7 separate regions of the Homo sapiens genome follow, and regions 2, 3, 4, 5, 6 and 7 are each linked to region 1. The links come from fine-mapping of genetic effects on gene expression. A gene starts in region 1. Each other region holds a variant in brackets. All regions are shown on one strand. Distances are between the middles of the regions. Region 1 holds the start of CA2 (carbonic anhydrase 2). Region 2 has its middle 180 kb from the start of CA3-AS1. Region 3 overlaps LOC105375937 (a long non-coding RNA gene). Region 4 overlaps LINC02849 (long intergenic non-protein coding RNA 2849). Region 5 has its middle 23 kb from the start of LINC02849. Region 6 has its middle 99 kb from the start of LINC02849. Region 7 overlaps LOC124901971 (a long non-coding RNA gene).

What was found.
Region 2: its variant is fine-mapped to the expression of CA2 in whole blood (TOPMed, PIP 0.98).
Region 3: its variant is fine-mapped to the expression of CA2 in whole blood (TOPMed, PIP above 0.99).
Region 4: its variant is fine-mapped to the expression of CA2 in whole blood (INTERVAL, PIP above 0.99).
Region 5: its variant is fine-mapped to the expression of CA2 in whole blood (INTERVAL, PIP above 0.99).
Region 6: its variant is fine-mapped to the expression of CA2 in whole blood (TOPMed, PIP above 0.99).
Region 7: its variant is fine-mapped to the expression of CA2 in whole blood (INTERVAL, PIP above 0.99).

The regions. Positions count from the first base shown.
Region 1 is chr8:85,461,674-85,465,741 of GRCh38, forward strand. It overlaps CA2 (carbonic anhydrase 2), which reads left to right and starts at 2,334. Exons shown (of 7, transcript NM_000067.3): 1 at 2,334-2,442; 2 at 3,599-3,796. The coding sequence starts at 2,409. CA3-AS1 (CA3 antisense RNA 1) reads right to left here and starts at 3,242. Exons shown (of 3, transcript NR_121630.1): 1 at 2,909-3,242; 2 at 1,063-1,128. RefSeq lists enhancers at 1-542, 2,443-2,942 and silencers at 1,570-1,829, 1,900-2,219, 2,330-2,799.
Region 2 is chr8:85,640,575-85,644,642 of GRCh38, forward strand. It overlaps the pseudogene REXO1L8P. Among named protein-coding and RNA genes, the nearest start is that of CA3-AS1, 180 kb to the left of the region's middle. The variant T/C (reference allele first, on the strand shown) is at 1,706.
Region 3 is chr8:85,515,401-85,519,468 of GRCh38, forward strand. All of the region lies in intron 3 of LOC105375937 (a long non-coding RNA gene), which reads left to right. Among named protein-coding and RNA genes, the nearest start is that of CA3-AS1, 53 kb to the left of the region's middle. The variant CAT/C (reference allele first, on the strand shown) is at 1,748.
Region 4 is chr8:85,851,296-85,855,363 of GRCh38, forward strand. It overlaps LINC02849 (long intergenic non-protein coding RNA 2849), which reads right to left. Exons shown (of 3, transcript XR_001745725.3): 1 at 4,009-4,068; 2 at 3,215-3,381; 3 at 1,224-1,477. Among named protein-coding and RNA genes, the nearest start is that of LINC02849, 2.1 kb to the right of the region's middle. The variant A/G (reference allele first, on the strand shown) is at 2,450.
Region 5 is chr8:85,829,889-85,833,956 of GRCh38, forward strand. No RefSeq gene overlaps it. Among named protein-coding and RNA genes, the nearest start is that of LINC02849, 23 kb to the right of the region's middle. The variant T/C (reference allele first, on the strand shown) is at 1,771.
Region 6 is chr8:85,952,212-85,956,279 of GRCh38, forward strand. No RefSeq gene overlaps it. Among named protein-coding and RNA genes, the nearest start is that of LINC02849, 99 kb to the left of the region's middle. The variant C/T (reference allele first, on the strand shown) is at 1,897.
Region 7 is chr8:85,895,863-85,899,930 of GRCh38, forward strand. All of the region lies in intron 1 of LOC124901971 (a long non-coding RNA gene), which reads left to right. Among named protein-coding and RNA genes, the nearest start is that of LINC02849, 43 kb to the left of the region's middle. RefSeq lists a silencer at 518-812. The variant G/T (reference allele first, on the strand shown) is at 2,335.

The DNA.
Region 1 (4,068 bases):
CATTAAAAAAAATTGACCAGGAAAATAAAACAATGCTAAGCCAACCACTGTAATACCAAAAACGCTGCTAAAAAATTTAGATTGCTTCTGAGTAACCAAAGGTGAACCACTCTCCACCCTGTGGTGAACATGTGACACTCTCCCTAACAGCAGCTCTGTGGGGAGGGCTTGCTCCCACTGAGAATTAATTCACTTTCCAGAAGTGAGAGATAAGGAAAAATTCCCATGACAATAATCCATTTGGTGAACTGCAGTTTGGTGGTGTTTGAAGTTTTACGCATATTTAAGAATCAAACATGCTCTTACTTCATCCCTGTTAGGAAAGCCACAATCCAGTTTCACGGAAAATGAAAGACAAGGATTCCTGCTGATCAAATCGCCTGGCTCCCTCCACAGAATCCCGGGAAGCCACTCTACATTCACAAACTTTGCACTCAATTCTTGGCACCTATCAACGCCATATCTCCAGGGCCAAGTGAAGAGTCTCATAGCAACTAAGTTAATATTTGAAAATTATGTAAAGAAACAAAATTACATCAATGGGCCCCAACAGATACAATGCACCTACAGAGGCACAAATAAAAGCTTCTTCTTTGCTACAAACTCCATTTTGTAATGGTCCTAAAAATTTAAAAACTTTATTGCTGCTTTCTTGCCTAAGAATTCCCTGTGACATCAACCCAAAACCCACATAAGCAGAAGTACACAATTTTCTAGAATCTTAGAACAAGTAAGTCTAAACATGAATCATATTTGTTTGGATGAAATTGACTGAAATAAATAGTAAAGAGTGATTTTGAGATACATATTGCAAAAATGTCCACTAATAACTTATCCTTGTATTTATCTGTATATTTTCAAAGGTAAGTAATGTGATGTCAAGGCCGACACAATCACATTAAACTGTGTCCTGCTTCCCCAACTGTAACTCTAATACTATTGCCCTCAGAGATTGCAGAGACCACAGAACCGAACTCCTTCCCACAAACCCCCGGATTTTTCTGTGGCAAAATCCCTTGTAGGAAATGAATTCTCTCTATATCTCAAAACAGCCTCACTTACCCAGTAGGCCCTGTAAGCACAGTGTCTCAGGTCCACAATACTTTTAGATGCCCAGGAAAATGTTTCCTTTTAAAATAAGAACAAAAAAGAAAAAAATTAGGTGTTGGTTAAAGAAAATGTTTAAATATATAATATTAAGATATTTATCTTTATGTCAGTGTTGGTATAAATGCGTGTTTATGAAAAAGGGACCCACCAAGGTGAAATGCCGTAGGACCCACAAATGTCATAATGCTGGCTGGCCTCAAAATGTCCTTCCTATTAAACTATTTTGAATGATTCCTAGGTATGCCAGATGCCAATTTTTCTTGGCCAGCCAGGGAACGTCTCATGTCTTTGGAAGAAATTATCTTTCTCTTACTGGATTCTTCTGAGAAAAGTGATTTGTTAAAAGTTTTGGTTATTTCAAATCAATATGTACTCAACTAGGACGTCTCCTCACCCACGTTAATTTTTTAAAGAGGAGGAAAGTAGGAGAAGATGAGCGCTTCATGTAAGGCTCTGCCAGCCTACGAGGAAATGCAATCCTCCAGGCTCGCCCGAGCGTGGGCTGCGGGCAGGGGACTGTGGGGCCGTTGTCTCGTTTTATTCCACGGCCGTGCAGCAGAGGGCGCGTGCCTCTCAGCACTCATGCTGCGCGCTCCCCTGCGCCTCTAGGATCGTATCCCTATTTGCCCCAAGGTCATAGCTCCTAACCCAGCTTGCCAGCCCCAGGCCGGGGACACCAGAGACTGAGCCCTTCGCGCTGGAGACCCCGGCGCGGGTGGGGCGGGAGGGCTCCGGGGCCAAGAGACAGGTCACAATGGGGACAGGGGACGAAAGGCGCCGGGGGTCCGGGTCCCGAGCAGTCCCCGCCGCCGCCAGACTCCGCAGCCGGGAGGGGGATGGGGTGCGCGTAGAGGCTCCGCGGCCCGGGTTGGACGGAGGAGCCCAGGAGCCACCGCAGCCGCCGCACGCCCAGAGCTCCGAGCTTCGCTGCCAGCCCAGGACACCGGGGCCCTGCCGTGGGCCGAGGGGAGCCGGGCGGCGGGAGAGGAGCCCCGGAGCCCCGGAGCCCCGGAGCCCCGCCGGGCGCCAGCCGAGAGGGCGTTTTCCCCGCCCCCGGAGACTCGCCCGCCCGGCCCGCCCCGCCCCGAGCGCGGGGAGTTCACCTCCGCCCGTCACCACCTCCCCTTGTCGCCTAGGTCCACCCGAGCCCCCTCCCCCGGGCCGCCCCCGAGCACGAAGTTGGCGGGAGCCTATAAAAGCTGGTGCCGGCGCGACCCGCGGACACACAGTGCAGGCGCCCAAGCCGCCGCCGCCAGATCGGTGCCGATTCCTGCCCTGCCCCGACCGCCAGCGCGACCATGTCCCATCACTGGGGGTACGGCAAACACAACGGTGAGTGCCGGCGACGGCCAGCGCGGGGGCGCCCCGATCCCCGATCCCCGATCCCCGATCCCCGAGCCCGGATGCCGGCCCGGGGCCCGCAGCGCCCGCACATGCTGTTTACCGCGGCCGCGGGGAGTGCTGGAGGCTCAGGTGCGCCCCGGGCGCTCGCTCCGCTCGCGGCTCCGCGGCGCCGGGGATGTCCCCCTTGCCCCAGCTGCGAGGCCACTGTGGAGGAATCCCCGCGTCCGCCGGAGGCGCGTAGGGCCCGAGGGAGGGGAGGCGCAGCCCTGGCCGCGGGACCCGAGGACAGTCCCTCCCGGGTCCCGACCTGGGGATCATTTTAACCGGACCTAGGAGGAGGCGGGAAAGGGTTGTAACGGAAAATTCTAGTTGTTGATCGCAGAGAAATTAAGAGACTCCCCTCCCCCCTCCCCCACCTTCCACCCCCACCCCACCCCTCCAGCTTCAGCACCACCTGTGGCTAAGGCGCTCAGCACGAACTGTCCCGGGGCATTTTCCAGTGCTGGTTTGAATCCATGGCTCTGATTTCCGAGTTTTCCCTTCATCTCTCGACTTCTAATGTTAGGGGGTCGGACATCAGGAATCGGGTTTTATCTTGGCCTCAGATCTGGTTCTTCGGAGCCAGCGGAGCAGAGGAGCATGCGTCTGGCGCACCTAGCGCATCTTTGGAGGGTGTGGGGCTTCCCAGGTAGTGGGGAACCCTGACGGTTAAAGGTGGGGTGGGCCCGGGCCTGGGCAGTGAGGAAAGGATCCAGACCTCCTTGAATGTCTTAAGTGAGCTTGCATATCCCAAAATCGCAACCACAAGCCCTGACATTAGTGTCTGCCCGATTTCAGTTGCTGAATTTCAGTAAAACGACCTTAAAATAGCTAATATTTATATAGCACTCAGTGATCTAAGAGCTTTACATATATCGATTCTAATTCTTACAGCGACATCTATGAGGTAGATTTCTAATTATCCCATATTACAAATGTGGAAACTGAGGCACAGATTACGTGTTTTCCCAAAATTTAGCCCATTGTTAAGTGATGCTTCTAAAATTGGAACTGAGCAGATTGGCTCCGGAATGATTGCTCTTCTCTAGGGGTCTGGGTGTACCTTTCCCCACAATGGGGGATTCACATGTCTTCTTTCCCCCAGGACCTGAGCACTGGCATAAGGACTTCCCCATTGCCAAGGGAGAGCGCCAGTCCCCTGTTGACATCGACACTCATACAGCCAAGTATGACCCTTCCCTGAAGCCCCTGTCTGTTTCCTATGATCAAGCAACTTCCCTGAGGATCCTCAACAATGGTCATGCTTTCAACGTGGAGTTTGATGACTCTCAGGACAAAGCAGGTCAGTGTTTAGAAAATAACTTGTGTCTTTTAGCCAGTAGCTGTTTTCCGAGCTTAATGGAAGGAGCCAGGAACAGTGGCAGGAACCCTCTTAATAATACAGTTTGTCTCAGGACTCAAGGATGCCACCCTGATCATTTTCATTAGGTCTCAGATTCTGAGAAGTAGGCTAATTAGTTTGAAGTGTCCCGGGGCCGTTTCTTCCCTGTAAAACCCTTGGCTTCTATGAAGGCCATTGAATAACTGCGATATGCCTGTGAAAAATCACAAAAG
Region 2 (4,068 bases), 180 kb after region 1:
CAACAGAATACTATTCAGCCTTAGAAAAGAAAGAAATCACGTCATTTGCAACATGAATGAGCCTAGAGGATGTTATAGTGAGTGAAATAAAGCAAAGGCCAGGCATGGTGGCTCATGCCTGTAATCCCAGTACTTTGGGAGGCAAAGGCAGGTGGAGAACTTTAGCCCAGGAGTTCGAGATCAATCTGGGCAGCATGGTGAAATCCCATCTCTACAAAAAATACAAACATTAGCCAGATGTGATATTGGACGCCTGTAGTCCTAGCTACTCAGGAGGCTGAAGTGGGAGGATCTCTTGACCAGGGGAGGTGGAGACCATGGTGAGTGACCCGTGTTTCTCTCAGTGTACTACAGCCTGCATGACAGACTGAGACCCTGTCTCATAAAATAAATAAATACATAATAAAGTTTTAAAAAGCAAGCACAGAAAGACAAATACTGCATGATCTCACTTATATATGGAATCTGAAAACATTGAACTCATAGTTGTAGAGAGCAGACGGGTGGTTGCCCGAGGTAGGGGCTGGGGAGGGATTGGGGAGATGTTAGTCAAATGATACAAAATTTCAGATAGGAATACTGATAGAAATCTATTGAACAGCATGCAACTGCAGTGAATAACTATGTATTGTGTACTTGAAACTTGCTATAAGAGTAGATTTAAAACTTGTTCTCACAACAATAAAATCAGTATGTGAGGAAATGAGTGTGTTAATTAGCTTGATTTTGTCATTCCACAATGCATACATATAGGAAACCTCATGTTGTACCCCATAAACATATATAATTTTTACTTGTCAATTTAAAATTAAAATTTAAGTAAATTATAAAAATAAAATGAAATAACATACACTAAAAAAGACTTTTATTTATTAAATCTCCACAAGAAGTCTAAGTTATGAAGGAAAATAAAATTCCAGGAACAGTAAAATCAATCAGAAATGCCCTACTTCAGTGCATTCCGAAATTTGTCTGACAGAGTGGAAATCCAGTTCTTCACTAAGTCATTGTTTTGGAACAGTTAGTGAGTGTGTATATATGTTTGTGTGGGCTCATATACACAAATTAAATTCATGGTAATGTAAGCATTCAAAATATCAGTTTCATTTAGTTATGTACACATACACAAACACACACCCCCCACACACATTTATAAAATCAGCCATTCCACCAAAACTAGCTACTTAGAGTCTCATCTCTCACTGAAGATTCAAAACAGAAACGTGGATTTAGGGAGGCATGATGGTTCATCCTCTCTTGGAGCCCAGTTGGAAGTTGACTGACTGATTCAGACATTATAATTGATTGGTCTGGGTGAAAGAATCCACTTTGACTCTTAATTGAACACCTACTATGTGCCATTGTTTTAAGGCTTGCCATGTGTTGCTTCATTCCTTCCTCACCATTACCTTATGATCACACTTTAAAGATAAAAAAGTAGAAGCGCAAAAAAGTTATTTGTCCAATATTACAAAGCTAGTAAGTGGTGGAATTTGAATTTGAACCCAGATATCTAACTCCAGAGCCTAAGTGCTTCACCCATCTCACTGTGGTGGCTCTAGAGAAAAACAGGTAAGTGCACATTAAGAAGCAAATGCCTCTGAGTTGTTCTTAATTTTTTTTATTTTAAATTTTAAAATTCATATAACCATTTATTCTGCGCCTGCGCCGGGGGTGGGGAAAAAATCGGGTGCGGTAGGGGAGG[T/C]TCAGAAAGCCCCACAGAAGGAGAAGAGGCCCAGGAGAGAAGACTGTCAGGAAGCTGGTGGGCCTGGGGGCTGGCCTTGTTCTCAGAGGCCAGGGAAGTGCAGGTGGGCTGAGTGAGGTTAGTGGTGTAACGACAGAGGTCTTCGACAGGCAGAGGGATGGGGACAGGCGCGAGGGGCCTTGGCAGCGACCCGGGGGAATGGGAGTTGGGGCTCGGGCCTCGGGGAGGCGATTGGTTGAAGGACAGAGGTCTGGGAGGGGCAGAGCGATGGGGACATGGACGGCGGCCCGCTGCAGGGACTCCGGGGCACTGGGAGTCGGGGGTCGGGGATAGTCTTGGCTTTTTGCCCTCTCCTGCCGCCTGCTGCTCCAGTTTCTTTCGCTTTGCGGCGAGGTGGGCAGGGTGAGCTCTCGGGACGAATGGCAGTTTTGGAAGAGGCCTGGGGCTAAGGACAGGCCAGGGCGGCGGGAGAGGCGGACCGGTGGCGTGGCTGGATCTGGGCGCGCTGTCGGACCTTCCACATCACCAGCTGCAGGCAGGCGTTTGCGTCCTCGCTGGAGTTGTGGCCGTCCTGGCTGTTCTGGATGATCTGTGCCAGGTAGTCGGCCGCGAGATTCCTGAGGGAGCGCTTGTAGGGGAAACCCAGGTAGTGCGGGAAGAGCACGGCCGTGTCCACCACGGTGCTGTGGATGAGCTTCAGGGCCAGCAGGTCGCTCTCCAGGCTGTGCCCGATGAGGATGGTTTGGGCGCTGAAAAAGCTCAGCAGGATGGCTTGGACTTGGGGCAACGTGATGCTCGTCTTGGCGACGTCGGCCTCGGTGACTCCGGAAAACCTGGTGTTGTAGTCCACGATCTCGTTGTCGGGCTTGACGAAGGTGTCGTACACCACTCGCATGTCGGCGTCCACCACGGTGACGCGGGTCAGCTCTAGGCCATGCGTGGTGTAGCACATCTCACAGTCCAAGGCGTAGATTCCTGGATAAGCGTCTCTGGACAACTCTTTCTTGAAGGTCTCCACGAAGCCATCGAGGCTCTCCTTGCGGCCGTCCCGCACGTGCTGCTTTGCCACCTGGCAGCCCACAGAGCCAGGAGCAGCTGCACAGCAGGTGTACTGGCTAACCCGGCCTCCAGCCACCTGGCTCGAGCGGACCCGCCCCCAGTGATAATAACACAACTGGTCGCGTACACAGCGGCCCGAGGAGGACACCAGGTACTCGGTGCCACAACGGCAGCAGACCCTGCAGGAGGAGTCGCCGGGCCCCTTCCCCTGGCCAGTGAAGAGGACGGCGCCTCCGGGCCGCTCGGGGTGCGGGAAGGGGTAGCCGTTCTCCTTGAGCTGGTCCTGGGTGAGCAGGAACTCCTGGAGGCGGCTGTACAGGGCGGCCCTGCTGAGGCCGGGCATGGAGCTGGGGGTCAGGCCCTTCAGTCTCTTGAGGGTGTTCAGGACCACGTTCAGGTACCTGTTCTTGTTGGGGCTGCAGTCGTAGGCCACCTTCTCCTCGTTCAGCGCCTTCTCCTCGGCCTCCTGCTTGGAGGCGCAGAACTTGAGACACTCTTCGGTGAACAGTTGGAGATAGCCTCGGCGGAGGACGGTGGGGACTTGGCACCCAGAGCTTCGGAGGATAATGGGTTTCTTCAAACTCGGTAAGGATGGACGACGGACGATTCGCTTAGAGCTGATGGTGGCGGTGGTCTTGCATGCCATCCCTGACCTGTTGCGCGTCTTCCCTGGCTGTCTGCCGACCTTGGAGCCACTGGAGCGTTGGCTACTGCTGGCCACCCGGGTTCTCTTGGCATCTGTGTAACCTGTGACCAAGCAAGGGCTGGAAGAGTGGGCGATCGTCTTCCTCTTCCTGGGGGCTGAGATGCGGACTCCCGAGGGCCTCTCTGTCAGCCTTGGGGCGGCTGGCAAGCGGCAGGCCGATCCCCTCTGCGCAGGGAAGTAGCACGACTCCGTCACCATCTTGGGCCACGCTGGGGGCACCGCCGGACCCCTGTTCTGGGGCTCTGCCTGGATGTCCACAAATGCTGAGGCCTGCTTGTGCATCTGGGGCACCCAGAGCCCGAAGCTCTGGGCAGGCTGATGAGAGGGCAGTGGGAATTCTGGAGCCTCGAGGGCCGCCTCCTCGGCCACCTTCTTAGTTTCTGGGTATCCAGGTGGGAACCAGCAGGGAGCTGTGGCTCGCAACATCTTGCTGCCTTCGGGAGCACCGGCCTGGCTCTGCTCCTCTCCCAACTGGCGGCTTCAATGAGTGCTGCGGCCGCCACGCGTCGCCTTTATATACGCACAGGGCAGACTGGGTGGGACTTCTCCTTGATAGGTTGGTGCTTCAGTCCAATCACCCTGAGCCTCATCTTCCACC
Region 3 (4,068 bases), 54 kb after region 1:
AGTGTCTGGTGTTATGGAAGCAGAAGGACACCTCTAACTCAGGCTGTGGTCAGAAAATTTAAAATGTGAGGATAATGCTTGAGTTTAGAACACCGGAAAACTTGGTAACCTGCCAAGTAAATAAAATGGGAGAGGGGACTTTCAGGCAGAGAGAATGGAATGTACAAAGGTGAGAGACAAAAAATATCGGAGTTTTGGGAAATGCAAGTGAGTGTGGTGGCAGCATAACCTCTGTGTGTGTGTGTGTGTGTGTGTGCACGCATCTGTGTGCACATGTGCACAAGCATATATGTACACAATATGTGGAGTGATGGGGAAGGAATCAATTGAAGGTTGAAAATGAAATCAAAGAAGCAGGTAAAATCTAACTCATAAAAGGTTGTGCCTATCAACAGTTTGAACTTGGTAGGGTTTAACAATTAGTTTACTCAACCCAAGTTGCCTCCTTTACCTGTTCTCCACCATAGCACTTTCAAACCTTTGCTGGGCAATCAGCTCTGTGAGGGTAGTAGCCATGACTCTTAGTCACGGTTATATCTCTGGTGACAAAGCATAGTAGCTGACGCATGGGAGATGTCCAGTAACTACAGGTAGAATGAGTCTCTCTTCTCAAGCTTTTAGCTCTATGCCAACTCCTTCCTCCCAGAAGGTGACTTTAACTTTTTTTTTTTGAGACCGAGTCTCACTCTATCACCTAGGCTGGAGTGCCATGGCACGATCTCGGCTGACCGCAACCTCTGCCTCCCAGGCTCAAGCGATTCTCCTGCCTCAGCCTCCCCAGTAGCTGGGCTTTCTGGCGCCTGCCACCACACCCAGATAATTTTTGTATTTTTAGTAGAGACAGGTTTTCGCCATGTTGGCCAGGCTGATCTCGAACTCATGACCTCAAGTGATCCTCCCGCCTCGGCCTCCCAAAGTGCTGGGATTACAGGCTTGAGCCACTGCACCTGGCGATTATAAGTTCCTAACTCAGGAAATAATCATAATCAGACATTGTGTTACTTTCCTAGAGCTTCTATAACAAAATGTGACAAACTAAGTGGCTTAAACAACATACTTATTGTCTCACAATTCTGGAGCCTAGGAGTCCAAGATCCAGTGTCAGGAGAGTTGATTCGTTCTTGAGGCAGTGAGGAAGAATCTGTTCAATGCTTCTTCCCTACCTTTTAGTGGTTTTGGGGTAATCTTTGGTATTCTTTGGCATCTAGACGCATCACTCCAATCTCTGCCTTCATGTTCACGTGGCATTCTCCGTGTGTGTGTGTGTGTGTGTGCACCTGTTTCCAAACTTCCCTTTGAGTAAGGACACGAGGCACTTTGGATTAGGACCCACTATATTATTCTCATTGTAACTTCATCACCTCTGTAAAGATCCTATCTCTGAGTGAGGTCACCTTTTGTAGTAATCTAGGTTAGGACTTCAACATACGATTCTTGTGGGGAGTGTACAATTCAATCCACAACAGGTACAAACTTCAAAACTACCTTCCATCAACTTTCATAATTTATTCTGCAAATAGAGTTTACTGTCCCCATTTTAAAGAGGAGAAAATTGGGGCTTACCCTCTTTCTATGATTTGATCAAGTTTCCACAGCTAGTAAGTGGCAGAGTTTTAACATTGTCTTTAAATAGCCAGATTGAATGCAACCAAAACAAACATTGCAGGAAAGAATTACTTGTTTTATATGTAGGTAGCATGCAATATAAGAGTTGTTCATTCATTATTTTACTTATCTGATAAATAAA[CAT/C]ATTGAATATTTATGATGTACCAGGCACTGTGGTATGTTCTGAGGGGACAAGAAATTAGTAAAACGTAAAGGTTGACCTTAAAGCAATTTGCCATTTTCATGTCCAAATTGTAATGTCAGAACATATAAACATTGATCGAACATAAGGGGATGTTTTCCCAGATTTATCAAACTAAACTCAAACTACTTTACTTCAATTTCTTAGATACTCTATAAAACAACAAGGCAGAGAAATGTAGTGGGTTAATAATACAATATAATTTGAAAAGGTTGACTTCGAACATGTTTAAAGAGTGTAAAACATTTGGCAGACAGTTTAATAACCTGTTCAGATAAAAGAAAACACGTATAAAAATAAATACACAAAAAGCTAAAATGATTGCCAAACCTCATGTTTACTCACCCACTGTGATAGGATCTAAGAATGCTGAAAAGCAGCAAATTTGTCTTAAAAGGCAGTGTATTTTCAGATTCAGCAAATATTTACTGATGCCTACTGTGTGCTGGACTGTTTCCTGGGCGTTTTCCATTCTACCTGTGTGATAGTAAGCATCTTACCCCATGAGTCTCAATTGCCCATCTATAAAATAGAAACAGTAATAATACTTTCCTCACCACATTGTTATGAAGAGCAAATGAGATACCATAGGAAGAACTTGGTGCAGTGGCTGGCATGTAGTAGGTTTTTTTTTTTTTTTTTTTGAGTTAGATTCTCATTCTTTCACCCAGGCCAGAGTGCAGTGGCAGGATCATGGCTTACTGCAGCCTCAATCTTCCAGGCTCAGGTGATCCTTGTACCTCGGCTTCCCAAAGTGCTGGGATTACAGGCATGAGCCACTGTGCCCAGCCTGTAGTAGCTTTTCAATAAATGTTTGTGGAATCTGAATCTGAATCGTATAATTTTTCCTATTATTCTTAGACTAAGATTGGAGAATTAGGGCCAAGTGTGGTGGCTCATGCCTGTAATCCCAGCATTTTGGGAGGCCAGGGTAGGAGGATGGCTTGAGCCCAGGAGTTCGAGAGTAGCCTGGGCAACATAGCAAAACTTCTTCTCTACAAGAAGTACAAAAAATTAGCTGGGCGTGGTGGCCCACGTTGGTAGTCACAGCCACTCGGGAGACTGAGGTGGGAGGATCGCTTCAGCTGGGGACGTCGCTGCTGCAGTGAGCCGTGATTACACCACTGCACTCCAGCCTGGGCAACAGAGTTAGGACCCTGTCTCCAAACAAAAACAAAACACAGCAAAACAAAAAACAAAGATTGGAGAACTTTAAAAAAATATTGCGTACTTTAAATCTGAAAGTTCTTTCATAGCCTTATTATAAATATGCATTGTTAGAGACAGATGCAAACCGTTTTTATTTTTTTTTGTACAAGGCATATAAGAAAGAATAAGAATAAATTGTAACTTGAATTACAACATTCAAGACAAACTATTCTTAAATGTATTGGAAAGAATTACGTATTCCCTGGGTTCTTAAAAAGGGTACAGTTTTTCAACTCTTTTTTTCTGTTATGCATTGCATTGGGTTACGATCAGAGCAATTTAAATGATGCAGTCACATTTTCTATTTAAAGTAATAAGGTTCAAATCTCTTAGAAATAAAGCAAAGCAATATAGCCATACTGCTGGTAATAACACTGATCAATTTGATCTTACAAATATGAAACGAGTATGCCAGCATATCATGTAGCATGTGCCAACAATTCTGTAGTTATATATAAATTTGTACTGTTATTTGTTTTAAATTTATGCTCCTGTCTGTTTCTGAAAGGACTTGAGACAGTGTATAAATATACGCATGGTTTAAATTTACAATGATACACACTCATAACATAACTCAATAAATCCCACAAGAAACCTAAGTAACTTTTGTCTATCAGTTTCTGGGAAAGGTCTGCTTGTTTTCTTGAGGGAAAAAATAGACTCAACTTCTTCTTATTCATTGTTGTTTCCTTGGAGCTCTCTTAGGGAACCTATAGCTATCTGGGTTGTGGCTCACCAACCCATGTGATATGAGAGAGCAGAGGACTTTTATTAAACTCACATGTACTGTTGAAATCTTGACGGGGTACATTGTTAACATGGATCTGATATCAGTGAATAATATTTTAGGATTATAGATCTGGAATAGGTATATTTAAGAAATAGATCTAGAATCCTATACTTGCCTAGAAGTAAGTTGCCACCATAACTTTTATGGCAGAAAATGACACTCCAAATGATGATTTTCCATTTTCCTTTTGGTAAAATGCTTTTACTAAATAAAAGCAGAATTGTGCATCTTTCATTCATTACTTCAGCCATTTATTAAACAA
Region 4 (4,068 bases), 390 kb after region 1:
CTTCCTTCCTTTCCTCCTTCCTTCTTTCCTCCTTTTGACTCAAAGTCTCACTCTGTCGCCCAGGCTGGAGTGCAATGGCACAATCTCAGCTGACTGCAACTTTCACCTCCTGGGTTCAAGCAATTCTCCTGCCTCAGCCTCCCAAGTAGCTGGGATTACAGGCACCTGCCCCCACACCTGGCTAATTTTTGTATTCTTAGTAGAGACAAGGTTTCACCATGTTAGTCACGCTGGTCTCTTTGGCCAGGCTGGTCTTGAACTCCTGACCTTGTGATCTGCCCACCTTGGCCTCCCAAAGTGCTGGGATTATAGGCGTGAGACACCACACCCAGCCTCCTTTCTTTTAGAATATAAATATTCATTTAACTATTCTGTTACTCCAAGCAATTGCTAAGTCAAAAAACCTAATTCCCAAAAGATGTGTAGGTTGTTTGTTGCCATGGAGCTGTTGTAATTTGTACAGCCATTAATTTAAAAAAAAATCTTTGAAACTTTTTTTTTTAAATCTTGTCTGGTGTGCCATAAGCAGTGAGTTTATCTCAACACTAGTAGAAAATTAGCAGATTCAAAATAGCCAGAAGGAAAAATAGAGAGATTGAGAACTTAGAAAGCTCTGCATGTTAACTCTATGGTTGGTTGTAGATTTTTAACAAGCTTAGAGAGTTTGAATAATGGCCATTGAGCTCTGAATTTTCCTTGACATGAAGGAAAGTTTGCTCATTAGTTTAAAAATGTGCATGAGAACAGGCCATCATATGTAGCCAGCTGGAGTCTCAGAAAACCTGGCATGCCTTAATGTTTGAGAATCTCACTTTCTTTCTTATTAATCTCTCAAGAGCAAAGAAAATCCCATAAATCCTGTCAGAGAATGTCAGGAATTTGGACTAGTGTTTCAGGTATTCGCTTTTTAAATTAGTCATTCTGTGTCCGCCATTTAGGATGTATATTTTCGCTCTCAGAAGCTTTTCAGAAATAAGCTAGAGAAAAGAAGATCCAAGTTACTTACAGACATGTGTAACTAAACCAAAATCAGAGTGTTCACAAAAACTTTAACCCATGTATGCAGACCAAACAAAACATTAAACTAGGTGTCCAGAACCAATGTGAATTCACCAGAAAAGTCATGCCTGAGAAACAATATAAATTCTGTAAAAACTAGAGTACTCTTATCTTTACACCAGAAAGCGTTTGCAAAACAAACAAACAAACCCCCAAAACTTCCATAGTTTTAAGAGGGATGCAAGTTCCTTTATTTAAGGCTGCCTTAGTACCAAACCAAATCCTGAAGAAAGTCAAAAAGCCTCTACCAAAAAGAGACTCAGCCTAAGAGAAGATTCACCAGGTCAGAAAAGACAAGGCATGCACGTGGCGAGCTCAGAGATCTCAAGTGAATACTGCACACCAGTTCCAAGAATCGCAGATTCCTTCTAAAAGTGCTCTTGCTTCAGGTCCTGCTTCTGGACACATTTATGTCAACCTAAATAACAAACAGAGAGATGCTCTTTAAAAGAAAACATTTATTCAGGGATAGGACACTATAACTATTCAGAAATAGGACACACACTGTATGTGTGCCATAGTAAACTGTGTGAGTATTCAGGGAGGTAAAGGAAGACAAAGGTTTTTAAAAGAAAAATGAGGAAGATTACATAATTATTGCAAGATAATTATCTTTGCTACAAGGATCAATAACAAGGTTGGACAGGCAGTTGCTGGGCAGATGTCTTGCAGAAGTTTTTCTATGTAAAGTTGCAATGGCCTTTGTGCAAGGTTGTGGTTTTTGCAGTCTTATGTGATCATTCTTACTAAAAGTCATTTATGCATAAGAACTCTCCTTTCATGACTTTCTTCAGCTGTATTTTTTTTTCACAAGTGACTCCATTTTGATGTTAACAATTCTCACAACTTAAAGTCAACTAGTTGTAAATGTTAGTCACATCTATAAAATACATTCACAGCAAAGCTAGACTAGTGTCTGACCATACTACTGGGCCCCATATCTCAGCCATGTTGACACATAAAATTAACAGTCACAGCATGTGAAAACTGAATGGTGCTTCCATGTAACCAGAAACAAAACAAGTGACCAATGAGATCCTTGTGGCCATGAAAAGGTTGCCTTCACATACTTCAATGTATATATAAATCACTGGAGATTTTGTTTAAATACAAATTCTAACCCACTAGGTCTGGGATGGGGCCTGGGATCCTGCAATTCTAACAAGCTCCAAGATGATGCTCATGCTGCTCATCTGTGTCTGAGTAACAAGACCTCTGAAGACCTGCCTGAGAGTAGTAGATGGCCAAAAAGACAAGACAGGCTTAATAAATGGCTGAAACTGGGGCACAAGATAAGCAGGAGACTCTGAATATGAAATTATAATGTTCAAATTTGAGGTGAGCCAGAAAAGATGTAACAATTGCAGCAACTTCTGCAAAGCAATAGCAG[A/G]AAACCTCAGGACTCTCTACTGAAATAATTGGCTGCTTCTGGGAAACGACAGTTTCAGAGTCCCAGTGACTAGTAGGCAGAGACCCATATGAAATATCAGAAGAGCACTGAGCATATTAACCTCGAAACAATGCAATGGGAAAGCATTAGCTGCGTTTCCGACATCTCCAGATAAATGAAGGGGCTGTGATTAAATGAGACCACACTGGTGTTCCCATGTAGTAATTAGTTACGTAAGTGTCTCTAAGTCAGTGGCTCTCAAACTTTTCCACCCAAATTCCCGTAATAGCAGAGGAGAGCTAAAAATGTATTCCCAAGAGCCTGTCTTAACAAAGTCCACAGCCCTTTAAAGCTGCACATTTTCACTCTTAAAGGCCTATAAATGTATTCTATATGATTTAGGGTTCTCCAGAGAGACAGAATCAATAAGGTAGATAGGTAGATGTAGATATTTGAGAGGGGATTTATTAAGAGAATTAACTGATGGGATTATGGAGGCTGAGAATTCCCATGGCAGGCCATCTGCAAACTGGAGACCGTGGGATACTGGTAGGACAGCTCAGTCCAAGTTCAAAAGCCTCAGAACCAGGGAAGCAGATGAAATAATTTTCAGTCCAAGGCCAATGGCCTGAGAACCCCGGGGGCGGCTGGCATGTCTTAGAGTCAAAAGGCCAGAGAGCTTGGAGTGCTTATGTCCAAGGGGAGGAGAAGAAGAACACGCCACCTCCAGGAGAGAGAGAGAGAGAGAGAGAGAGAGAAACTCACCTTTTCTCTGTCTTCTGTTCTATCCAGGCTCCCAGCTGATTGGATGATGCCTGCTGACATTGAGGGCAAATCTGCTCCACACAGTTCACTGACTCATGCCAATCTCCTCTGGAAACCCCCTCACAGACACACCCAGAAGTGATGCTTTTCCAGCTCTCTAGATATTCCTTAATCCAGTCAAGTTGACACCAAAAATTAGCCATCATGTATTCCATTCCATAAAATAACTGAGTTTGTCTTAATATAAAAGTATTTTATATTATTTGCAATCAGATAAACTGAATTTCCAGCAAACAGGACTCAGGCCTTCTCATCCTCCTGGTACACATAATATACCACCTAGGGGAACACTTAAGAACTTTGGTCACCTGCATATTGGTCATCTACATCAGAGGCTGACAACTACTTCTGAGGGCAGAATCTAGCCCACCATATGTTTTTGTAAATAAAACTTTACTGGAGCACAGCCATACCCACTATGGCTGCTTTCATACTACAGAGGCAGAGTTGAGTAGTTGCCACAGATACTGTAGGGTCACAAAGCCAAAATTATTTACAGGAGGTTCTCAAATAACATCATTTCATTTAATGTCATGTTTGTTGATGAGAAAAGAATTGATTCCCAGCCAGATCTAGACAAGGGGAGTTCGCATGTTCTACCATTGTCTTCATGGGCTTTCTCTGGGCACTCTGGTTTCCTCCCACAACCCAAAGATGTGAACGTGAGATGGGTTGGCGTGTCTAAGTTATCCCAGTAGGCATGAGTGTGGGTGTGTGTGTGTGAGTGCCCCTACCATGGGATGGCATCCTGTCCAGGGTGGGTTTCTGCCTTGCTCGCTGAGCTGCTGGGATAG
Region 5 (4,068 bases), 370 kb after region 1:
AAACAAACAAAAAAGAACTTGCAATGTTCCAGTTATTTATCCATAATACCTTCCTCATAAAAATTCAGGAAAGGGATATTAGTTTGGGGAAATAGTTTCTCCAAAGTCTAGAAAATCTTGAAATAACTCTGCCACCTGTGAAATTTCATCTTCTCACTGAGAATACTCTCACCTCCCAGATATATTTTCTCTCATGTAACCAGCTGTGGGTACACAGTGAGGGTCTGGCTGTCATTTGCTGTTTTTCCTGCTGACCACTTCTTTCTTTAGCTGTACTTTCTTTAAATGCAGTGAAAGTCTGCATCTGGTCAAAGACTCATTGTGTCTTTAGGCCTGTGAGGCATTTTTATTCTCCTATTATGTACTGATTTAATTAGGTCATTTCTCAGAACTTTCCTGACCCCCGCTGGCACAGCACACAAAGGTCTGCAGAATTTTCTACTTCTATAAATCCTCAAGCATTCAGCCAGCACCTGTGAGTGCTTTTCTCAACTCAGACCCTCACAAAATACAGCTTTTCTCAACTCAGACCTCATTTTAATATAGAGGATGTGTGTGCTTGAAACCCTGGACGTTATTTTCATTGCAGTTAGAAAGTTTGTTATCAAATCCTATTTATAATGTTTTTGAACGGTGGCCTCATGTTGAACATAACAATGATGAAGAAATACAAAGCAGCCTGCATAGGTGGTGACAGAAGCGTGAGGACCCGGCAAAGTCAGGGAGAGTTAAGTGGACCAATTATGCAATCTGCGCAACAGAGACAAAGGATCTGCAGCATGGCTCCACCCATGCATCCAAGACAATGATCTCCTGCTGAAGAACTTCTAGACTGGCCTGTGGGGTTCTTTTGGTATCAGACCATTGTTCTTTGCTTCCCCATTTATTGCTTCTGTAACACACAGATTGGTTTAAAGCTTTTAAAAATCTATTAAATTTTCTCTATACCCCTGTTGAAACAAATTCTATGGTTAATTTCTTACATACTACTTTAAAAAATATTTTTGTTCTTACTCATCTCTCAGAGATTACTCATTCATGCTAATGCTTCTGGTCAAAACATGTGTGTTCCATTTTTCACACTATTCTTCATCTTCTAGATTTCAATTTTGACCAATTTTTAGTCTTTTAGGTTATAGGCCCACGAGTTCTAAATGCTAGTAAGGTATTAATATGGACTCCATTGATCTACTGCTGAAAGAAGTGAAAGGAAACTCTTGTATTAGATAATTTTAGAAGTCTGAGGAGGGCAACTGTTACTAGTAATTAGCACCTTATCAATATAACATATAAAATGAGATGATGGATGAGAGAAATAGTGGGAGAAAGTGCTTGCATCAGTGTTCTATTGCAGCATAAAAAGTTACCACAAACTCAGTGGCTTCAAACAACACAAATTTATTATCTAACAGTTTCTGTAGGTTGGAAGTCCAGGAATGGCAGGGCTGGGATCTCTGCTCAGGGGCTGATCAGGCTGAAATGTAGGTGTCTACAGGGGCGTGGTTTTCAAATGGAGTGCTTTCAACCTCACTGGTTGTTGGAAAAGTTCATTTTTTTCTCAGTAGTAGTTGTGCACTCTCCATTTTCCTGCTGGCTTTTACCCAGGGGCCATTCTCAGCTTCTAGAAGATGCCACAGGTCCTTGCCTCTGGCCCCCACAGGCAGTTCATGCATGGAGGTTTACATTTTTCTGGGCCAGCCTGAGCATATCTCTCTGAACTCTTCTGCTCTGGCCATCCAGAAAAATTCTCTGCCTTTAAAGGTCTCATTG[T/C]AGGTTAGGCTCTCCCAGGATAGTCTCCTTATTTGGTATCTTAATTACATCCAAGAAATCCCTTCACTTCAGCATGCGAATTGGTGTTTAATTGAATAATTGGGAGAAGGTGCGAGTACACCAGGGGCCCTAAATCTTGGGAATGTTTTAGGATTCTGCCCACCAAAATGGTCTGGGGAGAAATGAAGAAAACTTTTTTATGCTGAATATCCAGTGTACGGCGAATGAGCTGCTTGTGCCTAGTAACTGTAAGTGATTGAAGTCACAGCCTAGGTGCAGGTGGCCTCTCTGAACAGATTCCTGGGTTAAAAGGGCTCCCTTTCGTCAACCTCCTCTATCTACTTCCTTTCCACTGATGGCAAGTTTTACAAAGAAACCCACCCTACACTGAACATAGGGGTTCTTTAAGACTTCTGGACTTGATATGCAATCTACAGATCTCTTATTTGAGTCGCTTTTTAAAAATTAACTTTATTATTGAAGTATGATATTCATATAAAAAGTGACCTAATCATAAGCGTTCAGCTCAACAAATGATCACAGAGTGAACACACCCACATAACCACACTCATCTCAAGAAAGAGAAGCATCCCAAAGGCTCCCTTAATGTCCCCTCCCAGGCTTTATATCCTCCTACTTCTCTTAAATTAACCATTACCCTGATTTTTGATACCATAGGATTAGGTTTGCCTGTTTTGTGAGCTTTTTTATAACTAAAAACTTATAAATAACCTTTTCGTCAGACGTCTTTCATTCAATATTGTGTTTGTGAGTTTCCATTGGAAGAACATGCCACAATTTATTTGGCCATTCTATTGTTGATGAACCTTTGCACTGTTTCCAGTTTTTGACTTCTACAAATAATTCTGTGAACATCTTTGAACCTGTATTTTGGCGGGCTGTGCACACCTGCCTGTTGTGCATATTCCTAGGAGTGGAAATGGCAGGTTATAGAGAAGGCATGAGTCCTACTAAAACATTTACTGCCAAAGAGCATCTCCACCCTTAACTGTGGTTAATGTTCCAGTTTGGAGACTGTTTTACCCTCTATGCAGAGTAAACTTCCAATCTGCTACTGCAGTGGAAAGGCTCAGCCATCTACCTAGCGGAGTGAGTGAGGAAAGGGGTCTGGGGATTCAGCAGCCTCTTATAGTTTCAACTCATTCTCCCTATTTTAGCCAGCCCATCTCTCCTCAACCCCTTCAAGAGTTACCTGATGCTGTCAGCTTCAGAACATTTTGTCTTCTTTCATGGCACAAATTAGATTGCTTTTCAGCTTTCCTTATCATCAGTTTCGGATTCATTTTCCCCAGATCTGCTGCCTTTTTCTTTTCTCTTTTCTTTTCTTTTTTCTTTTCCCTCCCCTCCCCTTCCCCTCCCCTCCCCTCCCATCCCATCCCTTCCCGTTCCCTCCCCTTCCCTCCCCTTCCCTCCCACCCTTCCCTTCCCCGTCCCCTCGCCCCTCCTCCCATCTCCCGTCTCCTCCTCTCCCCTCCCCTTTCCCCTCCCCTTCCCTTTCCCCTCCCCTTCCCTTGCCCCTCCCCTTCCCCTCCTCTCCCTTCCCATCCCCTCCTCTCCCCTCCCCTTCCCCTCCTCTCCCCTCCCCTTTCCCTCCTCTCCCCTCCCCTTTCTCTCCTCTCCCCTCCTCTTCCCCTCTCCTCTCCTCCCCTCCCCCCCCTTCCCTTCCCTTCTTTTCCTTTTTTGAAGATAAAATCTCACTCTGTTGCCCAGGCTGGAGTGCAGTGGTATGATCTCGGCTCACTGCAGGCTCAACCTCCTGGGCTCAAGCAATCCTCCCACCTCAGTCTCCAGAGTAGAGATGAAGTTTTGCCATATTGCCCCAGACTGGTCTCAAACTTCTGAGCTCAAGCAATCTGCCTGATTCAGCCTCCCAAAGTGCTGAGATTCCAGGTGTGAGCCATTACACCTGGAAAAAAGAGGCTGCCTTTTTCATCTCTCCTGTTTTCGAGATTTTTGATGCTGCCATGCCCTCTCCCATTTTTTTGCCCCTATGGTTTATACCTTTAAGACAAAGTTCATTGTCTTTTGTTTTAATGAGGAGCTGGAAGAGAACAAAAGAAGAAAGCACATGTGTTTAACGCTATCTATCTGGTGAGGTAATATTCCTTTAAATGTTCAACATTCCTCCCGGAGTAAAGGGGTAAAGGAAGTTTCTTTGCATTATTTGAAATGGCTCATGGCTTCACAAAATAAGACTGTAGCCTGCTTCCTGTGGGTAGGATTTTGTTTCTCTCTTTTGTTATTGTTTTGGAGACATTTATGCATTTTTATTTTGCT
Region 6 (4,068 bases), 490 kb after region 1:
TTGTTATCCCAAGTCTCCTCCCCTCCCATGCAATTGTCTGTTTTATTTGATTATTTGTTTGTTTTTGAGATGGAGTCTCGCTCTGTCACCCAGGCTGGAGTGCAGTGGTGCATCTCGGCTCACTGCAAGCTCCACCTCCCGGGTTCACGCCATTCTCCTGCCTCAGCCTCCCGGGTAGCTGAGACTACGGGCGCCCGCCACCACGCCCAGCTAATTTTTTGTATTTTTTTTTAATAGAGATGGGGTTTCACCGTGTTAGCCAGGATGGTCTCGATCTCCTGACCTTGTGATCTGCCAGCCTCAGCCTCCCAAAGTGCTGGGATTACAGACACAATTGTCCTTTTTCCCATCAGCTTCCTACCTGGAATTTAAGGCCTAGTTTGTCTTATTCTGACACTCTTCTTTCCAGGAGGGGGACAACTCCATTTAAGAGAGAAAGAAGCTGTGTTAGCCAAAATTAAGTGAGGGCTGTGAACCCATTCCTATCACCTGGAACATGCACACTCCCGCTAGATTAGGGCAGATAGAATTTCAGGTCCTGCTACCACACCAATGGTTGTAAAAATAGAGGCCAAATATTTAACATTGTGTTGAAATTTCAGGCCAAAGTAATGTAAGCCAATCAATACATACAAATTGTTGCCCCTGTTCTTGCACTGATCCATTTCATTTGTAAGATGCATATTCTCACTGGCCAGAAATTCAGACTAAGTTTAGTCATCACAACTAGTGCTCTAAGCACACAACCAGAATCTAAACACATACCCATCCAAGCCACCACCCTACCACCCACAGAGCTGCCATCTCATTCTTACTTGATTCTTGCACTTTCAACAGGATTTCTTCTTCTCCATTGTCTTCAACCATATTTCTTTTCTTAGTTCACAAAGCCTTAAGTTCTCTTCAGCCAGCTTACTAATTTATTCTTCCTATCAGAGCGGCATACCAAATTCTTAACTAAATTAGATGGTATAGGGAAGGCACATTATCAAATCTAAAAGAACAACAAGATGTAAACTATTATTTTTAGCAGAGATGGCTGAAAATGGAGTAACTTGAAAAAGGTGAAGACAACCTTCATGTACATCCCTGACTCAGTTTACCATTTGCTTACTCTGCCAGGTGGTACCCAATAGCTCCTCAGCCAGAGTGAAATTATCTATCTAATGTTATCTCATCACCATTTTTGTTTACTTTTTAAAAATGTATTTGTCTAATTAGAGGCTGTGCATGAAAACAATCTTTTTGTAAAAATATAGATAAAGTTCAAGTCTGTCACTTTCATCAATTCCACTCAATTTTTGTTACCTGCAACAGAAAAAACTACCATTGGCATTTTGCCTTGTATCTTCTCAAACCATTTTCTATGCATTTACATACATCTTCGTACATATAGAAAATTAGTTTTGTTCTGTGAGATTTTATTTAGTTTTGTTTACAAAACTGGGATCATTCTGTTCATTTAGTTTAGCAACATGTTTAAGTTACTATGCCTTGAAAATATTTTCTCTTTTCCAAATATAGGTCTTCCTTATTCTTTCATCTGCTGCATGGTTACTTCATGTGAATGTACCATAATTTAGTCATGAGTTTCCTTAGGTGCTTGGCAACTTTTACTTTCCCCAATAGTGCTGAAATGAATATTCTTATAAATGCCACTTTATACATATATGGGAATATTTTTCCATCATCATTAATATTAATAAAAATTCCCAAATTTCTCTGGAAAACTACTTAACCAATTTGAGTGTTCTTCATTTCTCTATGTCCTCATATAATACTTAGATTAGCTCCATTTTTACTTAATTTGTCTTGCTAAAGAGGCAAAAAATCTCATTTGTTTTAATCTGCATTCCCTTGTTGCTGATGAAGAGAAACTTCTTTTCATATTTTCCA[C/T]TGTTTCTCTTTTCCTATCCTTGTCCTATGCTCATTTGACTATTTAGTTGTGTTTTTCTTATTGATTTGTAAGAGTTCTTTATATAGTCTAAATACTACTCCTCCATCTGTTTTCTATATTAATAATATTTTCTTCTTGTCTTTTCTTTGACTCTTAACTTTTTTATGGTACAAGAACACTGTAGTTTGTATAGAGTTCAATTATGAATATTTTTATGGTATTTGCATTTTGCAACTTGCTTAAAAGACACTCCTCATATCAGATTTGTAAACATATCCTCTCATGTTTTCTCTTAGTTCTTTAGCAGTTTTAAATTTTATTTAACTACTCTGCCTAACAAAAGAAACTAGCAACAGACTAAAGATAACCTACAAAATGGGAGAAAATATTCATCCCAAACAACTGTGTTTGTTTTGGATACAAACTGTGCATCCAACAAAGTCTAATATCCAGAATCTATAAGGAATTTAAATCAACAAGCAAAAACAAGCAATCCCATTAAAAATAGGCAAGGGACATGAACAGATACTTCTCAAAAGAAGACACACAAGTGGCCACCAAACATATGAAAAAATGCTCATCATCACTAATCATCAGAGAAATAAAAATCAAAACCACAATGAGATACCATCTCATACTAGTCAGAATGACTATTATTAAGCAGTCAAAAAATAACAAATGCTGGTGAGCCTGCAGAGAAAAGGAGGCTTATACACTGCTGGTGGGAATGTAAATTAGCTCAGCCACTGTGGAAAGCAGTTTGGAGATTTCTCAGTGCTTAAAACCAAATTAACATTTAGCCCAGCAATCTCATTACTAGGTATATATCCAAAGATATACATATGCACTTGTATGTTCATCACAGTGCTATCCACAATAGTAAAGACATAGAATCAACTTAGATGCCTATGAATGGTGGATTGGATAAAGAAAATGTGATACATATACACCATGGAATACTATGCAGCCATTAAAAAAGAGTAAAATCATGCCCTTTGAAGTAACATGGGTGCAGCTGGAGGCATTTATCCTAAGTGAATTAATGCATGAACAGAAAGCCAAATACCACACATCCTCACTTTTAAATGGGAGTTAAACACTGAGTACACATGGAGATAAAGATGGGAACAATAGACATTTAGTACTACTAGAGTGGAGAAGGAGGGAGGGGGGCATGGACTGAAAAATTACCTATCAGTACTATGCTTACTCCCTGGCTGACAGGATCATGAGGTTTGTACCCCAAACCTCAGTATCATGCAATATACCCATGTAACAAGCCCGCACTTGTAGTCCCTGAATCTAAAATAAAAGTTGAAATTATTTTAAAACAATTTTTATTTAACTTTTTAATCCAGCTGGAGTTCACTTTTGTACATAGTGTAATTTAAATAATTTACCTTTTTTCCTCAAATGAAAAATTAGTTGGCACAAAATTATTTACTGAGTAGTTTGTACTTTTCACTCTGATATGAGATACTGCCTTTATCATTACTAAATTTCAAAGTATACATTACTCTGTTTCTGAACTCTCTATTGGGTTCACCCTATTGTTCTATTTTTTAAGGAATGTAAGGCAGTTTTGATTATTATAACTTAAGTACATGCTTCAATATATGAAAGATCAAATTCCCTCTTATGTTAAAAAATAATTTTTTGATTATTCTTTCATGTTTTATTTTCCAGATGAATTTTGCAGTTAGCCTATAACATTCTATAATTTTCTTGTTGGAACTTGTATTTAAACTACTTTGAATTTATAAATGTCACTTTTTTGTACAATATATAATTCTCTAACTAGATGTTAAAAGCAATGTAGATATAATTTCCATCAAGAAAAAAGTTTCTTTGCAATATCGAAAACTAGAAAGTGAATCTTAGATTTAATGTAAAAAGTAATGAAGAATCTTAAATGGAAGAATGAGATGAAAGATTTGGGTTTAGAAAGATTTTGCTAATTGTTTCAGAAGCTTCCTTAAAGCAAGGTTTCAGTTAGTATTAGGGTTATGATAGGAATAGTCTTACATAAGGGTAAACAGTTAGATTGTGGCAGCAATCTGGCATGAAAGGAAAAGAAGCCAGCTAGGGTAGGGTCAAAGTGTTTGGAGGGGAAAGATGAATGTGAAATATTTCCAAGAAAGAAATAAACTATAATCATACCCTTGTTTGCT
Region 7 (4,068 bases), 430 kb after region 1:
ATAACAATGCAATATAGTTCACCAAATTAATTTATATAAGTTGTATTGTATACACAAATTAATTGAGTCTATGAACTCCTTCACAGCATTTTGGTGAGCGAAGATCAAAATTATCTTATTTTTATCTTTGCCTCATTCCCAGCACCTTGTACATGGCAAGGGCTCAATAAAATTTAATTTCTTTAGGGAAGTTGTACCCTAGAGTTGAACTCTTGCTTTCAACCTATCCCATTTCTTGTAAAGCTGTGAAGGCAGCTATCCACAGCAATGAAGATTACAGGTAAAACTAGTCCACAGACCTCTTATGTATCTAGAAGACTTGTTGAAGATAATGATTATGATGAAATTGTAATTCTTGATTTCTTCTTTTAGCAACATCTTGCAAAGTGGTGTTCAAAGAATGCTATTCCTGTGAGGTATAAAAGTAAATTAAATAAATAAATAAATAACTATATATATATATGTATATATATATATAAATAGTTATTCAATAGTTAACTATGCCTGCCTCATTTCATATTTAAATGGATCAACTAATAATACATTTCAGGAATGAAATATTACCATGAACTTATTTTTTTCCTAAACCATTTTTAGCTTTCCTGATTCATGGTGAATGTGACAGTGTCTATAGCACTGTCAGGGGACCAGATTAACCCAGGCAGCGGGTGGTAAGTCAGCACCTTGGAGTTTGTGGTTTATGCAAACAACCTCACTGACTTGAATGTGTAAAAATCAAAGAAATCCCACAGTCTTGGAGGTAATAGATGATGTTGTAGCAGGACACACACCAGAAAGGAGGCATTGCTTTTGTGGCTAAGACTTATGACCTCCCTATATATAAAAATAACCATGGTTCACCCTAGAGACTAATATAGTACTTGTTGGTTAACTGGGTACTAATCTAGTGGTAAAAGTAAGGTTGATTACCATTCAAGCAGTGGAAAGCCTAGACCAGGGTTTTTTTAACCATTTGTCTGCCAAGGACTTCTTTGAGAAGCTAAAGAGAAGAGCCATAAAATATTTTTAAAGATGAGTTATGCTCTTGGGAAAAATGTTGTCTCCTGGGATACCAGGCTAACAGGTTCTGGAGTGTTCTTTCTCTCCTGTGGTTTTATGATTTTCATGTGCAATTCATTATTTGTGTGTGTTGTGTTCTTTCAAAATCACTATTGGAAAGTTGAAAAACTTCTTAGAATTCCGACCATTCAGATAAGGTCCCCAAAAGCATTTTAGAGCAGAGATACTGAAGCCCAAGAATCCAAACTTCCTGGTAACTTTGGCAAAGCTTTTTTATATATAAATAATCAGAACATCTTGAATTAAATAAATTCAGGGTGAATTATATAAATTTCAACATATCTGTTTTTTTCAGTAAAATGAAGAATGCATAAATAAGGTTTTAATGTGTACTAGAATTTGATCTACTTTCTATATGCTAAACCTGGGCCCTCCTAAGTCACCATTTGTCAATAAGAAATCAATCATAGAGATCCTAATTATACAGCCTAAAGCAATAGAAATATTTTATGAATGATTCTATGTTTCAAAAACTCTTCTATAGAATAATATATTCACTTATTACTATATTTTCCTCTAAAAAGTAAGAAAGAAAGAAAAATTAAAAAAATAAAATAAATAAAAAGTAAGAAAGAAAAAGCTCAGGACACAAAATCTAGCAAAAGGATTAGATCAGCTGTAAGAATTCATCTGAGGGGACTATTAATAAGGAAGAAATATTTTTAAATTTTTGCTATTAGACCTCCAAATAGAATGGCAGATCTACCAACACTTAAACCTATGTAGAGTTCTGATTATTCCTCTTTTCTAAAGTACACACCTTAAATTATTAACTTTTAAGTTATTCATTATACCTTAAAAATTCAGTTGAGCATGTTCTCATAAAGCAAAAGGAATATTTCAGTCTGGTTTCAGCAAGATGTGATTTAGGGAACCTCTCAAAAAATGGTGGGGAGAAAAGGGATTCTAAGATATATAACTGGCTTCTCCTGAACCCAAAATACGGAGGAACTCTAACATCTCATCCAGTTTCTCTGTCTTCTTGTCTCCTTTGTGATATGCTGAAGGCTTTATAAACACAAGGTTGGAGTGTAGTCAGCCAAGGTTTCAAAGGGCAGGCTACTTCTTACTCTATTTTTCTTAGGACTTTGATCTTATCTCTTCTGCTTATGCCAAATCAAGCTTCTGTTGCCCCAACAGCTACCCCAGTTTAGGAGCTGAGGAGAACAACAACACTATTTTTATTGGAGAGACCCTGACTAGAGGGTGGGCATGGGAACAGGCAGGCTAAACTGCAGAGAGCAGGCTGAGTGA[G/T]CCACAGAGTGATGTACAGTCATCCCGTTTCAGAGAACTCCAGGGACCATCAGAATGAAGTCAGATTTCAGTGCAAAACTGTGTATTTGGCCACTGTTTCCATACAATAAGGTAAAAATTAATCATAGCAAATGGCTGCTTATTAATAAAACCAAATTATTAAAATGGTCTAAATTGTAATGCCTTCTTAGTCATTCAAATTGCCCTGGGTTAGACTTAAAATTGACACGCAGGTTTAGAAATGTAACTCTAGCTATCAGAAGGAAATGAGAAGAGATATTCTGTCATCTATTATTCTTTATAGGGGAAAACTGATTGATCCAAGGACAAACCTATCTCCATTACTTGGCCGGAATCTAAGAAGTAAACCTATGAGGATTATATATATTTATGTCCTAATCTGTCATGCCAACATAATCATGATGTGCCTTTATGATATTCTTCAGTCTCTCTTCCTCAATCTTCATATCTACTTGGTCACCAACATTTATTAATTCTACATTAGAAATTACTCTTGAATAAGGTTCCCGTTCCATCATCCCCTGTGTCACTAACTTTAATTTACTCTTGTGGGTCATCCATCTACAAGCTGCCAAGGTAATCATCCCAATAACCACAGGATAAATACACTCTCTTTGCACACAGGATAAAGCCCAACACCTTGGCAGCGTCTACAGGGCCCTTTGCAGTATAGCATCACTTAAACATCATCTAACCTCATTGTCACCAAGGCCCCCTGTATTATTTATACACATGAGGAGTCCTCATTCTTCCTCCAACATCCTTCTCAGACTTCCAGCTTGAGAGAGACATTTTCTTGGTCTTTCCTTGGTGAATTCCTAGTAATCTTTCAAGCACCAGTTCAAATGTTATATTCTCTAAAGTTTTCTTTGACCCACCCATCTGCCATCCTTACTCCCACAGGTACAATATCTGGGCTTCCTCTTCCTGCAACATTTTGCTTGCATCTCTTTTGGAATACTTAACACGTTTTTCCGCCATGGTACAACATAGAGGCCAACTTCAAAGTTGAGTCTGTGACACGTCGTTGTGTGACCTCATTCAAACCACTGTACTTCCCTGTACTTAATTTCTTCAACTGTAAAATGTAAATGAATATGGCTACTAAACAGAGCTGTTGTAACAGTTCAATAATGTATCAACACAGCTCCTGACCATGGTGAAAATTCAGCAAATAGAACTATAATTATTATTATGAATAATTGTTATTAATTATATATGTAAATACCTATATAAGGCTTATTAAAACTCTGTGAAGGTAAGAACTGTGGGTTTTTAACACAGTCTTTATCGCACATACACTTAAATTATGTTTTCTTGCTTTATCTCCTGGTTATTTGAATGGATTTTCTGTTTTCCAGTGTAACCCAGATGTAATATCCTTACCAGATTCTTGTCTCTGGCAAGCATACCTAATCTGAAATGGATTCACCGAAGCCCAGCTAAACCATGACCAAATACAGGTCCTGATAAGGAATATACTATCCAGCAACTACAGTGATTAAGTGTTGTGCTAAGAACATTTATTCTAAATATTTATAGGTCTTCTTTTTAAAAATAGCCTAAAGAATTTTGGGGAAGATGATAACAGTGGGTAGAGTGAGTGTTCAAATGTGTACATATCAAGAATATACATTATCATAGAATCACTTAAATATTTAAATTGTGTTTATATTGCTCATTCTCAGTAACTCTTTTAGATGCCATAAAACC